2 linked regions of the Homo sapiens genome follow. The protein of the gene in region 1 purifies or fractionates together with the protein of each later gene. This does not show direct contact. Each region holds a gene or a part of one and is shown in the gene's direction. Other genes may lie near its edges.

The links. Proteins that work in one complex are often made in the same cells at the same time.
Region 2: the proteins of DUS4L (region 1) and PTPRG purify together in Homo sapiens (affinity purification with mass spectrometry; 2 studies listed by BioGRID and IntAct, with this or other methods). This does not show direct contact.

What each region holds. Positions count from the first base shown.
Region 1 is NC_000007.14:107,572,138-107,579,501, forward strand, and holds the end of DUS4L (tRNA-dihydrouridine(20a/20b) synthase [NAD(P)+]-like), read left to right. Parts: intron 1-1,566; coding exon 1,567-1,684; exon of another isoform or gene 1,685-1,746; intron 1,747-3,050; coding exon 3,051-3,173; intron 3,174-4,228; coding exon 4,229-4,455; intron 4,456-5,175; coding exon 5,176-5,423; 3' UTR 5,424-6,386; downstream 6,387-7,364. Other genes in the region: DUS4L-BCAP29 protein, read left to right, coding at 1,567-1,684, 3,051-3,173, 4,229-4,455. UniProt on the Homo sapiens protein: Catalyzes the synthesis of dihydrouridine, a modified base found in the D-loop of most tRNAs.
Region 2 is NC_000003.12:62,271,571-62,278,570, forward strand, and holds part of PTPRG (receptor-type tyrosine-protein phosphatase gamma isoform 1 precursor), read left to right. Parts: intron 1-1,375; coding exon 1,376-1,511; intron 1,512-2,127; coding exon 2,128-2,274; intron 2,275-4,302; coding exon 4,303-4,396; intron 4,397-5,401; coding exon 5,402-5,478; intron 5,479-5,980; coding exon 5,981-6,109; intron 6,110-7,000.

The sequences.
Region 1 (7,364 bases):
CCATTAGGTTCGGCCTCCTTGAGGGCTGTAGCTTTAGAAATAGCTTGATTTGTATCCTCAGCATCTAGTACAGTGTTGGAAATATATTAGACCAATAAATGGTTGTTAAATTGAAATTCTGTAACTCTCTTGAGTTACAAAAGGGAAAGCACCTTACATCTCCATAAAGAATAAAGCAAATTCTCCTAAACCATCATAATCCTGTAAATCAGTAGATTGCCATAGGAATCTTGAATCAGTGCAACTAGGATGATGCCCACAAATCTGCATTTTCATAAACACCCAGTGAATCTCATACAAGTATTCCTCAAAAGAAATGTTGAAATACATCTAAACAGAGTTTATAACACTGACCCAAGGATACGAAAAATATGTTCTTTAAAACCTAGGAAGCTTTAATACATTCGGCTGTATTAAAATTAAAACTTTGGGCCAGAGGCGGTGGCTCATGCCTGTAATCTTAGCGCTTTGGGAGGCCAAGGTGGGTGGATCACCTGAGGTCAGGAGTTTGAGACCAGCCTGACCAACATGGTGAAACCCTATCTCTACTAAAAATGCAAAAATTGGCTGGCCATGGTGGCAGGTGCCTGTAATCCTAGCTACTTGGGAGACTGAGCCGGAGAATCACTTGAACCTGGGACGCAGAGGTTGCAGTGAGCTGAGATTGTGCCACTGCACTCCAGCCTGGGTGACAGACTCTGTCTCAAAAAAAAAAAAAAATTAAACATTTATATGTAAGAGCACAAATATACTCAAAGACAAAAAACTGAGGAGAATATTTATAACACATGATAGATAGCAATACTAATTTCTTTGTTTTATTAAAAAAATTACAAATAAAAAGAACAACTAATGGAAAAATTATATACAGAAAAATGCAAAGAATATGAAGAGAGCTCACAAATTAGAATATTCAAATGTTGGATATACACTGTATGATAAGTTGTGAGGAAACAAGAACTTTTATCCATATTGGTATATGTCTATATTGGTAAACTCTTGAAAGATAATTCTGTAATATCTATCACAGTGTTGTATGTTAAATGCCTATTAACAATTCTCCTAAGAATTTACCCTATGAATATACTCAGAGCATGTGAAACAGTCTAAAAATACACTATATGGTCCATCCGTACAGCGGAATATCCCACTATAAAGAAGAAAATAGGTCTGAGTACATCTCCCAGATACATGAGGAAAGAAAGGAACACTAGGCACAGTGGTATATATAGATTGTTCACACTTGTTTAAATTTTACAGGTATACAAAAAAATTGTTCTGGAATGCAGTAAACTAATTCTCACCTTTGAGAAGAGGGTCTATTTTGTCAAAAGTATTAGAATTGTTTTCATTTATCAAATTTTGTACTGTTTGAATTTTTTACCGTGTAAATTGCTTTTAATTTTAAATATTTTAAATTGTTTAATGTTATATTATTTGGACAGATGCTTCTTAGGCTAAAAAATCGTTATTGCTATTTTATCCTGTACAAACATTAAAGTTTGGTGTGTGTGTGCATGGGGTTTTTTCCTGTGAATTTTAATGTTGAGCTATTCATTTTGTCAGGTGATTGCCCATTGATTGTTCAGTTTGCTGCTAACGATGCAAGACTTTTATCTGATGCTGCTCGTATAGTCTGTCCTTATGCGAATGGAATAGACATTAACTGTGGTTGCCCTCAGAGGTAAAGCTCAAAGAAGTTGGAAGAATTTTCCAAAAGAGTAGAAAAAAAACTGTGTGAACATGGTAAAATATCTTTCTAGTTTTCCAAAAATTAAAAAGAAAATAGAGTTACAGTCCCAGGGCTCAAAACAAGAAGGAAGAAAATATAGGGAAATGTAATTTAGAAACATAAATTCAAAGGTCTTTTCTGATGACTGAAATGATGTATAGACCTTTGACAGGTGTTTTGTCTCCCCTCACCAATAGAATTTTTATGTGGCTGTGCCTTGAATCTCATCCCTAAGTAGTTATATGAGAATCTAATGTTTACGGCAATCCCTAAAATGTATTTTTACTGTCATGTCAGATATACTTGCTCTGAAAACAGATTGTTTGACTTAGGAAATCACCACATATTTCCTCCTAATTAATTCCCCTTATAAAAATACCTTATTATAATCACTTTTTCTTTCTATACCACAGTTACTTGTTTGGGTTTAAATAACTGGGTGTTGATAGGGTGTACTTAATTTGACAATAATATTTCTTTTTTTTTTTTTTTTTTTGAGACAAGAGTTTCCCGGGTTGGAGTGCAGTGGTGTGGTCTCGGCTCACCACAACTACCGCCTCCCAGGTTCAAGCGATTCTCCTGCCTCAGCCTCCTGAGTAGCTGGGATTACAGCCATGCACCACCACGCCAGGCTAATTTTGTATTTTTAGTAGAGACGGGGTTTCTCTATGTTGGTCAGGCTGGTTGCAAACTCCCAACCTCAGGTGATCCGCCCGCCTTGGCCTCCCAAAGTGCTGGGATTACAGGCCTGAGCCACCGCGCCCAGCCTGACAATAATAGTTCTACTTTACTGGCACTGTAGTAGATTATCAGTAATTCAAAATGTGTCCAAAGAATAAAAGCAAAGTTGTTAAGTATAGCGTAATCGAAATCAGATTAGACATATTTGTATACTCATTAGGAGGGTTAAATTAGCTGTTTAGTGGTATTGGAATGCTGTAAGCCAAAAATATCTTTCTACTATTGAGACTAATAAAACCTCTTGTTATGCACAATAAACATCAAATTTGGAATTTTTAAAATCTGAAGTCATTGCAATTACTTCAAATATTTAAACCTGTTTTGGTTGAATGACTTTTAACTTAATATTCTCACTTGCCAATGAAAACCATTTCTCCTGAGTACTTTTTGATCTGGGAACATGTTTTCCTAATCTCATATTGATCCACTTAGAAATGTTGAATCTATGAATTTTTTATATCTGCTTCTCTTCCAGATCACTAGAGAAATGGATGCACTTACATTTCAGTGCTTTCAGAATTTTGTCTTCTCTTCCAGTTATTTATAATTCACTTGTTCATGTGTTTGCTTTACAAAGGTGGGCAATGGCAGAAGGTTATGGGGCTTGCTTAATAAACAAGCCAGAGCTTGTTCAAGACATGGTGAAACAAGTAAGAAATCAAGTGGAAACCCCTGGATTTTCAGTTTCTATTAAAATAAGGTAAAGACAATATTTCAATCTATTGATAGGATAATCCATTACTTAGGAAATGAAAGATTATTGCTTTTGTCTGATGCTGTTGGGAGTATCTATCCTAAATAAATTGGTAGCTGGTGTATGGAAATGTTGAAAATAAGACATTTAGTAAAAGAATATATACCATAATTTTCATTTATAGTCCTGAAAAACTTCCTCTTTGTACTTTTAACAAAAGTTAAAGCCTCCCTTTAAGTTTCACCAAACTTTCAACTTTAGCTATGTAGTATTTAATGTTAAGAAACATTACTGGTGCCAAGTGTAGAAAATAGGAAAAATATTTGCACTAAAATTTCACAATGAAAAGAAAATAAACCAGGAATCAGTTTTTCCGTGACAGGTTGAAAACATATTTCTTTTTTTGAGACAGAGTCTCACTCTGTTGCCCAGGCTGGAGTGCAGTGGCACAATCTTGGCTCACTGCAACCCCTGCCTCCCAGGTTCAAGCAATTCTCATGCCTCAGCCTCTCAAGTAGTTGGGATTACAGGTGTGTGTCACCACACCTCGCTAATTTTTGTATTTTTTAGTAGAAACGAGGTTTCGCCACGTTGGCCAGGCCAGTCCTGAGCTCCTGGCCTCAAGTGATCCACCTGCCTCAGCCTCTCAATGTGCTGGGATTACAGGAGTGAGCCACGGTGCCCAGCCTGAAAACATATTTCAAGATAAAGTATTATATTCTCCCACTGGGGGATGGGGGCATGCACAGCAAATATTAAGGTTTAAATTCATCTGTGACAGTACTTTCATGGGTCTTTCATTTATCAAAGCCAAAACATAGAAGCACTAGGTCTAAGATAAAACTTGTTTTTTGTCCTTTGTTGTCAATAGTGAAATAGCTAAATTTGAGGTCTTGTGTAGGAACTGCTCCCTGAAGAAAACCTTGCTGATAATGACATAGAGTAATAATATGATATAGCAAAGCTAACTAATTTGGTAGATGAAATACCATTTTAGTCAGTTAATGTTAGCATTAAGATTTGTGTGCTGTGAACAGATAAATGTAATTTTGAAATTGTAGGATCCATGATGACCTTAAAAGAACTGTAGATCTTTGTCAAAAGGCTGAAGCAACAGGAGTTTCATGGATTACAGTCCATGGAAGAACTGCTGAAGAAAGACATCAGCCAGTGCACTATGATTCCATTAAAATAATTAAGGAAAATATGTCTATACCTGTAATTGCTAATGGAGACATCAGAAGCTTAAAGGAAGCAGAAAATGTGTGGCGGATTACTGGGACAGATGGTAAGAAATAAGTACTTGGGTTCTTTTAATTGGGGGGGGAAGAAATGAGAGTGGGGAAGTAATGTTAATTTGATTTTCATTTGTTTTGTTTAACATTAAGCCATATTTTCCCATTGTACTGTTTTAAGCTAAGCGATTTATTAAAATGATGTTAAGTTTTCTACCTAGAAAAACATGGATTATCTTAACTGGGATAAATTAATTCAGTTACTTTTCTGACACCATCATATCTAGTGACCAGTGAAGAATTTTCCAGATAGCCTACTAGTAAAATAAAGCACCTAGAAATAAGAGTAAGTGAACTCGAGAATGATAAGAGCTAAAGGAATCCCAGAACTGCTATGCAGTTTCATTATTCCCTTAAATTATTGGCATGCCAAGCCCTATAATTGCTAGATGGGAGAATATAGATAAACTGAACTTTAAGCAGCCCAATTTATGACAATCCAGATTTACCCTAAAGAAAAACTAAAGACTAATGGTTTAATGTAGAAATCTTTAAAAAATAAAGATTTCTGTACGTACATTTAAACTTTCCTGGTTTACAAAAGGTACCAAAATTAATTCTTTTGTAATCGGATTAAACATATTAATGCAATAAAGACATTACAAAACCTTGTGATAATACTTTTTAAAAATATACTGTTTGCTTCATTGAGCTTGAACTAATAACCAGGGGTTCTTAATGTATGGACAAATATGGTGTGCTTTAATTTGTAGGTGTGATGGTTGCAAGAGGACTCTTAGCAAACCCGGCCATGTTTGCTGGATATGAGGAAACCCCACTGAAATGCATCTGGGACTGGGTTGACATTGCTCTTGAACTCGGGACTCCTTACATGTGTTTCCATCAACATTTAATGTACATGATGGAAAAGATAACTTCAAGGCAGGAAAAAAGGGTATTTAATGCTCTGTCAAGCACATCAGCAATCATAGATTACCTTACAGACCATTATGGCATTTGACTAGACTTCCCAAATAATTTTAATATATACTTTTAGACCCACAGTGAAACCACAGAAGGTCATATTTTGTACCTTAAACCAGTAGCTCTCAAATTTTAGTATAAAAACAATTCCTGGGAGCGTTTTTTAAAAATCAGTTGTAGACACCACCCTCAGAGATTCTGATTAGGTAGATCTGGAGTAGACCCAGAAATACACAGTTTAAAGAAAACTCCCAGTGGTTCAAACATCCTGATCATCCTAGGCAAACATTGACAAATACTGCTCTGAATCCTGTTCTATAGATATTGGGGGGATGGGTAGAGTGGGAATTTTTTCCTAATCATGTTTTTAACATTTTAAAATAAAATTTAATACTAAGAAATTATGGCTTATAGTATCTATAAATTAACAAGAAGTATGCAGGTGCAAAAAAGTGGTGGAACAAATACCAACATCCATCCAAAATGAAAAAGAACAGGAAATTCTGAATAGAATTGCACTCAGAACTTATATTAAAAATTCCATTTGGTTAATGACATTAAATTTGGTACATTTCAAAACTTCTAGGTCCTCCAAAGATTGAAAGCTTAATAATCTCCTACCTAAAAAGATAAAATTAATTGCAATCTACCATATCTTAAGTATAGGAAATTTGGTGTCCAACCTGGAGATGATTATATATTTGAAATATTTCCTAGAGAATAGTAACCAGGTTTTGTTTTTAACTTTAAAACCTAATTACTTTTGTGCCTCTCAGCCGTTGATTGTAACTTTAAAGTCCCATGGTTTTGGAGTGTTATTAATAGATTTTGTTATCGGTGGGCATGCACTGCAAGAATTAAGTATCTCAGACTGAAATAAAACCGTTCATAATTAAAGTATTATTTTGTTTTGCCAACATGAAAACTGTTATAAGGAAACAATTATGTAAAACTGTTTAATTCACGTTTGGGAATATTGAATGAATCCATTTTAACATAAGCACTGTGGTGCCATCTTTTTTCTCAGTACATTCTGTTTTCACTTTTCAGTTAATGCATTTTTTTTTTTAAAGATAACTCGCTGTTTCATTTTCTATGAATACTGTACAAAATAGGGAGGTATGGTCAGAACTCTGAATTGAATTACCCTAGTGTTGTGAGCACAGCATCATCACTAGAGTAATGTGCTCGGTGTTTGGAAGGAACCAGCGTGGATGGGCAAGAAGTTCTAACACTTTTGATTAAAAGTAACTTCCTGGCCGGGCGCGGTGGCTCACGCCTGTGATCCCAGCACTTTGGGAGGCCAAGACGGGCAGATCACGAGGTCAGGAGATCAAGACCATCCTGGATAACACGGTGAAACCCCGTCTCTACTAAAAATACAAAAATTAGCTGGGCGTGGTGGCGGGCGCCTATAGTCCCAGCTACTCAGGAGGCTGAGGCAGGAGAATGGTGTGAACCTGGGAGGTGGAGCTTGCAGTGAGCTGAGATTGCGCCACTGCACTCCTGCCTGGGCAACAGAGCAAGACTCTGTCTCAAAAAAAAAAAAAAAAAAGTAACTTCCTGGCTAGGCGCGGTGGCTCACACCTGTAATCCCAACAGTTTGGGAGGCCAAGGCAGGCAGATCACTTGAGTCCAGGAGTTCGAGACCAGCCTGGCCAACATGGTGAAACCCTGTCTCTGCTAAAAATACAACAATTAGCTAGGCATGGTGGCAGGCGCCTGTAATCCCAGCCACTCTGGAGACTGGGGCCAGAGAATCACTTGAACCTGGGAGGCAGAGGCTACAGTGAGCCGAGATCGCACCACCACAATCCAGCCTGGGCGACATTGGGAGACTCCATCTCAAAAAAAAAAAAAAAATCTTCCTTATGGTTAATTTATGTTCAAAGTCTATTTTTCTATTTTTTCTGTTACATGTGATCCAGAATATTAGTGATAAATTAAGAAAAAGCACCAACTTAAATGTGTTTTTGAA
Region 2 (7,000 bases), on another chromosome or scaffold:
CAACATGTGAAATAGATGGGGCAGGGGACTTAGGCCTCAGTGACCTTGGACCACAATGATTGCTACTGCTTTCACTTAGAAGCTGAATCTTCCACTGGAAACTGGGATGGATAAGACCTATGATAGTCTTAAAGAGGCTCTATTCCTGTAACATTAAGAAATCATCTGCTGCTTCTGTGATTTTTAAAAAACTAGATCAATCCCTAGTTTTTATAAAATCTTCTTATTAATAATATCAGCCAGGCATGGAGGCCAACTCCTGTAATCCCAGCACTTTGGGAGGCTGAGGTGGGTGGATCACTTGAGCCCAGGAGTTTGAGACCAGCCTGGGCAACAAAGTGACACCCCATTTCTACAAAAATTAAAAATAAAAAAATTAGCCAGCATGGTGGCACATGCCTGTGGTCCCAGCTACATGGGAGGCTGAGACAGAAGGATCCCTTGAACCCAGTAGGTCAAGGCTGCAGTGGGCTGTGTTCACATAACTGCACTCCAGCCTGGGTGATGATAGAGCAAGATCATGACTCAAAAAAAAAAAGAAAAAATTACAAAATCCCCATTGTTTATAGGAAAATTGTAGCCTGATCCTAATAAATAAAAATATGACGTTAAACACAAGAACTTTCCACACTAGAATAGAGATTGTGTTTTTGTAAATGGCTTTTCTGAAAGGTTCTTCTAAATAACAATATTTATAGTATATATGAAAATATTTCATTTTTAAATTTTTAGTTTAAATGTTCCATATAAAATACCTTTTCAAAAGCACTGGGAAATCCTTGTATAAAGCTTGTTTTTTGTCAGCCACAGTAAATGACTTTAGTTGGTTGTTTAAAAATGCTTTTATTCTGTTTCATTTGAAAATGCATTCTTGCCTCTTTTTTGTTTGTTTTAAACTTTGGTACTCAAATACATGTCGCTTGTTCTGTGATTTATGTTGCAATGCTAAGTGAATAACGTACGTCATCTAAGGTTATCTAAGTGGGGTTTAGGCTGGGAGTGGTGGCTCACACATGTAATTCCAGCAGTTTGGGAGGCCAAAGTGGGCAGATCACCTGAGGTCAGGAGTTCGATACCAGTCTGGCCAACACGGTGAAACCTCTACTAAAGATAAAAAATTAGTCGGGTGTAGTGGTACACATCTGTAATCCCAGCTACTCGGTAGGCTGAGGCTCGAGAATTGCTTGAACTGGGAGGCGGAGGTTGCAGTGAACCGAGATTGCGCCACTGCACTCCAGCCTGGGCAACAGAGTGAAACTCCATCTCATCTCAGAAAAATAATAAAATAAATGGGGTTTAGATTGGAATTTTTCGAATCCAAAGTTAACAGTATGATAAAACAAAAGTGCCAGTTGAGTGTCTTCATTTCTTACAGTGCTGGTGTGGGCAGAACAGGCACCTATATTGTAATAGACAGCATGCTGCAACAGATAAAAGACAAAAGCACAGTTAACGTCCTGGGATTCCTGAAGCATATCAGGACACAGCGTAACTACCTCGTCCAGACTGAGGTAAGGAGTAGCTGCCAGCGTCCTCACGACATTCTGGCAAATGCTGTAACTGAAATTTGTTAAATGATAATGAAGAGACAGATTCATTCTTTTAGGGCTTGCAGTAATTTACAGGTTTGTATTAGAAGATATTCTGACAATGATCCTATTCTACGGATCACAGTTTTCCATTTCTGTATGGATCTTAACATTTGGATTCCTAAATAACTACACAAGTACTTACGAAAGAGATACAGTTGTTTCAAGAGCTGTGTTAGATGGTAGGGGGAGTTAAACATGTTGTCTGGCCTGAGAAATACATAGGAGAGGATGGTTCTAAAACCCTTCATTGAACACGATTTTTTGTTTGCTTATTGAGTTGAAGCAATAAGCACAGTATAGAATACCGTGATCCAGGCACAGTATAGAATACAGAGCTAAACTTAACACAGTCTCTACCGTAAAATAAGTTAAGACTGATAAAGTGAGTATTGGAGCAAATCACCTAGCTGTAAGTGCTTGAAGGAAATCACTGGGAGGTCCCTGTTAGCAGCAGAATTAAACTAAGGTACACTTCATGAATGAGTGGCTAACCCTTAACACTCCCTCAGTGACTACCATGTATTGTACCTCTTAGGAGCAGTACATTTTCATCCATGATGCCTTGTTGGAAGCCATTCTTGGAAAGGAGACTGAAGTATCTTCAAATCAGCTGCACAGCTATGTTAACAGCATCCTTATACCAGGAGTAGGAGGAAAGACACGACTGGAAAAGCAATTCAAGGTAGTGCTTTGAAAAAGTTTCTTTGGCATAAAGCAAGAAAATGTTTTAAATGCCTTGAGTTTGGGGGTTATGTCTTCTTTGCATTAATGTATACACCGAAATGGATTACTATTTGTACTCCTTGTACTCCTTAAATGTGATGAAAAAGAAAATACGGTTTTGACCTATGTATGAATTGTTGGTATTCAAGTAGATATACAGTGTTGTATTTTCTTCTGAGCAATTTATGACTTTATCTGAATATAAACATCAGCCCCTGGCCATAATGACATAGTACTTTAAAGTAACTCGTTTAGTCCAAAAAATGTCCTATTTTTTCTGAACTAATCTATCTTACCTTAATTATTAAGAATGATGACTTGTAGACATATTGTCCTAAAAATATGCCTATTTCAAAAACTATTTCAGAAGATAATTTAGGAATTTAAAAAGAATTACTAAACAATACTAGAGAAAAGTTAACTTTTCCTAAATGGTTGTTCTTTTTCTTTGATAGGGACATGAAGAAGCTTAAAAGCGGTTAAGGTTTATATGGAATTGACTGAAGTGAAGGTGAAAAAGAGAGATTATAAGGACTATTAAAATAATTAGGGCTCAGTCATCTGATAATAAATCAAAATTGCTTCTAACTTTCAAACATCGCCTGTCTCTCCAGTTACCAAGTGCTTTCCTATTTATCTTTGTCTTTTAAATTCTATTTTGCACATTGTTCTGTATGTAAATAGTTTCTCCCTTTGTATCAAGATTCAAAGAATGAGATGAATCTACAGTTTTAGTTTTCATGGTAAAACTTTCCATAGACTGAAACTTTCATTTGAATCTCAGCTGAAGAAATGAGACTGCCAAGCAAATTATACCAAGTGATATGAAATGAAAAATAGTTTAATTTCACTGAGTTCAGTCATAAAATTAAAAATTTTTAGCTCCCCATTAACATTCTACTATAAAACCATGAGATAATTAATAATGAGGACACAGTGTATCATTTTAAATGTTTAACATGAGTTCTTACAAAATATTAAGTACCAACATTTCTTAAATTCTGCCTTTTTCGTTTCTTCAATTTTTTTTTATACATACTTTAAAACTTCATTTAAGAAATGCGACCAGGTAGTTGGTTCTTTTACAGGCACTAACCATTTTAGAGCTCAAGATGAAGAAAAAAACAAGAATCAAACTTGAAAATGAAAATTATATCCAGGGACCATGAGTTTTACTAAAGCATCTGGAGAAGAACACTGATCTCATATACTCCATTAGGATGGATGCCAGCCCCCAAAAAATAGGATTGACAAAATGGTTCAACCAAGCTACATAAACAGGAATAATAATCAAACTACTGGGCTGGTTACTTATAAAAGCCTTAGAACAATGTTAGTTCAGTTCAACAGAAATGTACTGAGAACTAGTTAAGTACTCCTTTATCTTCAAGAAACTTGATTAGCTCGTAATCAATAGCATTAAGCAATCTTTTTTAATGTAGACTCACGTAGGTCTTTTATGCCAGTGAGGATCACAGAAAAAAATTCACAGCAGCAGTGACATCACATAACAGAAGAATCCACATAGTTCTAGAAATATCTATTGCACACAGTACCTATTTCTACCTGATAGTAGAAATAAGAAAGATACAATCAAGGTCACTGAGAGAAGTACCACTAGGAAAGCACAAGAGTGTTCTCTGGGGCTGGGCATGGTAGATTACACCTGTAATCCCAGAGCAGCCTGGGAAACACAGGAAGACCCCAATTCTATAAACAATTTTAAAAATTAGCTGGTTGTGCTGATGCACCTGTGGTCCTAACTACTCAGGAGGCTGAGGTGGGAGGATCACAGTTAACTGAGCTACAATCATGCCACTGCACTCCAGCCTGGGCAAGAGAGCAAGACCCTGTGTCTTAAAAGGTTCTTTGTGGCACAGAAATGGTCTTGTTTATCAGTAATCTGATTGGGATTTTTGCCAAAGCATCAAGCAAATGCTATCAATTATATCTTTGAATGAAGACTAAAATGTTTTTTCTTTTTCAGCTGGTCACACAGTGTAATGCAAAATATGTGGAATGTTTCAGTGCTCAGAAAGAGTGTAACAAAGAAAAGAACAGAAACTCTTCAGTTGTGCCATGTAAGACTTTAAAACAGTTTGTTAGTGATCTTTTATACTGGATTGTATGTTAGGTACAGAGGCAGCCACTACTCTGATGCTATTGATAGCACCCTTCAATTGTACTGTACGTGGCCGTATGGTAGAAGGTTTTGAAAATGTCCTTTTAGTAACCTCATTAATGTATGACTTTATACCAGCCTCTTACCTGGTACTACCAAAAGGGAAAATGTTATGCTTATTCAACTAAGGTAGTTTAATGAAACTGGGAGAGGTGGTTGTCAGTGTCAGCAAGTGCTCCATCTATCTGACGTAGAATACAGCTTCATTTCACCTTGGAATGCAAGAATTGGGTTACTTCTACCATATTATAACATAAAAAATAATAATAAAGCTGTTATTGCTGTGGCATTAACATTCCTCTAAAACTTAGAATCCTGGATTAATCTGTACAACTAGAACTACCTTATTCAGTTACTGTGGCTATTGAGATCAAGGCACTGTTGATTGGTGGTGACCTTTGTATAAATAGCTAAGGACATTGCAGAGGATGCTGTCTGTGTGCTGTAGGCATAGACATGGGTGATCATTTGGGAGATTTATCTCTAATGAAAAAGGCCACTCTTTTCTAAGACCATCATGAGCAGAAAGACATGGAGAAAGGGGTTGGTAAAAGGACAAAGTATATGTTGGTATAATTGTAGGAATAACAAACTAGAGTCAAAAGTTATCTAAAATCCTCTGTTGTGTCCATATAAAGTATTCTGTTATTGATCTGCTGTAAAAATCTCTCCCACAGTAAAACTGTATTCCTACAATGCCTGTGTCCTTCTGGGTATGTGCAGCAAAATTTCATTTTACATTCTGCCTCAGCTGATAACACTTTAGCTTGTTTAAAAATATAGATAAGTCTTAGAAAGGGAAGCCAGGAGGATATGTTATTCATCAAGCAAATCTCAGAAAGAGCTGTTGGTTCTGTGTGTATAATAAGGCAAATGTGGTGTTTTTGTTTTTTCCATATGATAGCTGAGCGTGCTCGAGTGGGTCTTGCACCATTGCCTGGAATGAAAGGAACAGATTACATTAATGCTTCTTATATCATGGTGAGAGTCAACAGTTAATTATAAATAAAGTCAACTAAACTGAAAGGTGTTAAAGAGCAGATACCACCTGTGTGACTGATGTCATTTTTGAAATAATTTCTCAATGTGTAATATGAAAAGTATAGAGATTTCTGTATCTTGAAACTTTTAACAAAAGATACCTAATCAGTGCTGGTACAAAAATGCTTAAATTAAGCAGAATGCTTCTTAAGGAATTAATTTTATTGTTAATTTCACACATCTAGTCTTTGAATAAATGTTGAAATTTCCCTTAAGTGAAAACAGCAGGGTTAACTAGAAGTGAACTGCACATGGAGAGAAAATTGTCTGCACAGTGCTAGCAGAAGTACATCTAAAAATTAGCCAAATGTACCGAATGCCTTTCTCAATTATTTTAGTGTAGTCAAAACAGTGCTATCTTATTTCATGAATATATTTTACTACCACAAAGTTAGAATAAAACACTCATATTCACTGATTTTTTTTGTCTTCCCAACTGAAGGGCTATTATAGGAGCAATGAATTTATTATAACTCAGCATCCTCTGCCACATACTACGAAAGATTTCTGGCGAATGATTTGGGATCATAACGCACAGATCATTGTCATGCTGCCAGACAACCAGAGCTTGGTAAGTAAAGCACATCTGCTATATATTAATGAGCCCATGAGGCTACAAGCATAAATTACTTTGATACTTTGCCATAGGGCTATAGTATCCATATATGCTAGGGAGGGAATTTAAAATTTTTAAATTCTCATCTTGAAGTCTGTGGAGATTCCTTTCATAGTCTCACAATACTGTCCCTATCAGTTCCATTACTTGAGTCTCTGATGCTATTGATATCACCCTTCAATTGTACTGTCTGTGGCGGTGTGGTAGAAGGTTTTGAAAATGTTTTTAGTAACCTCATTAATATATGACTACACCAACCTCTTCCCTGCTGTATGTCACTTTTGAAAAGTAAATAATTGTAGCTTACAGGTACTGAGTATGTAACTGTGTTTACATGCATTAACTTGTTTAATTCTCAACAATTTTAAGACATACATACTATTATTATCTCATGTAATAGCTGAGAAAACTGAGAACAAACTTGCTCAAGAGAGCACACACAAGTAACTGGAGCCAGGATTTTAACCTGAGTCATCTGTCTCCAGAGACCATGCTTATATAATCATTTTACTGTATGTCTTACCCCAAAATATTGTATCAAAAGTACTAATAGTGAATTTTTTTTTCCCACTCCATAGGCAAGTCAGGTCTACTGCAGGGATAGGCTATTTTGTTCCCACTTAAAGGTCTTTAGGACTGAGCTGCTACTACTTTTCCCTCCCTTAGTCCTTCTCTATTTCAGTCTCTAAACTATACAGAAGGGTGAGCAAGTTTATAAAACAGACTTAAATGTTTCTGCTTAGATCTTGTGGATACTTAAGTTTCGGAATTAGCTGGGTCTATAAAAGTTACTGTGTGGACATGTGAACCCATGAGGTAAAAACAAAAAACAGTGAGGATCTGCCT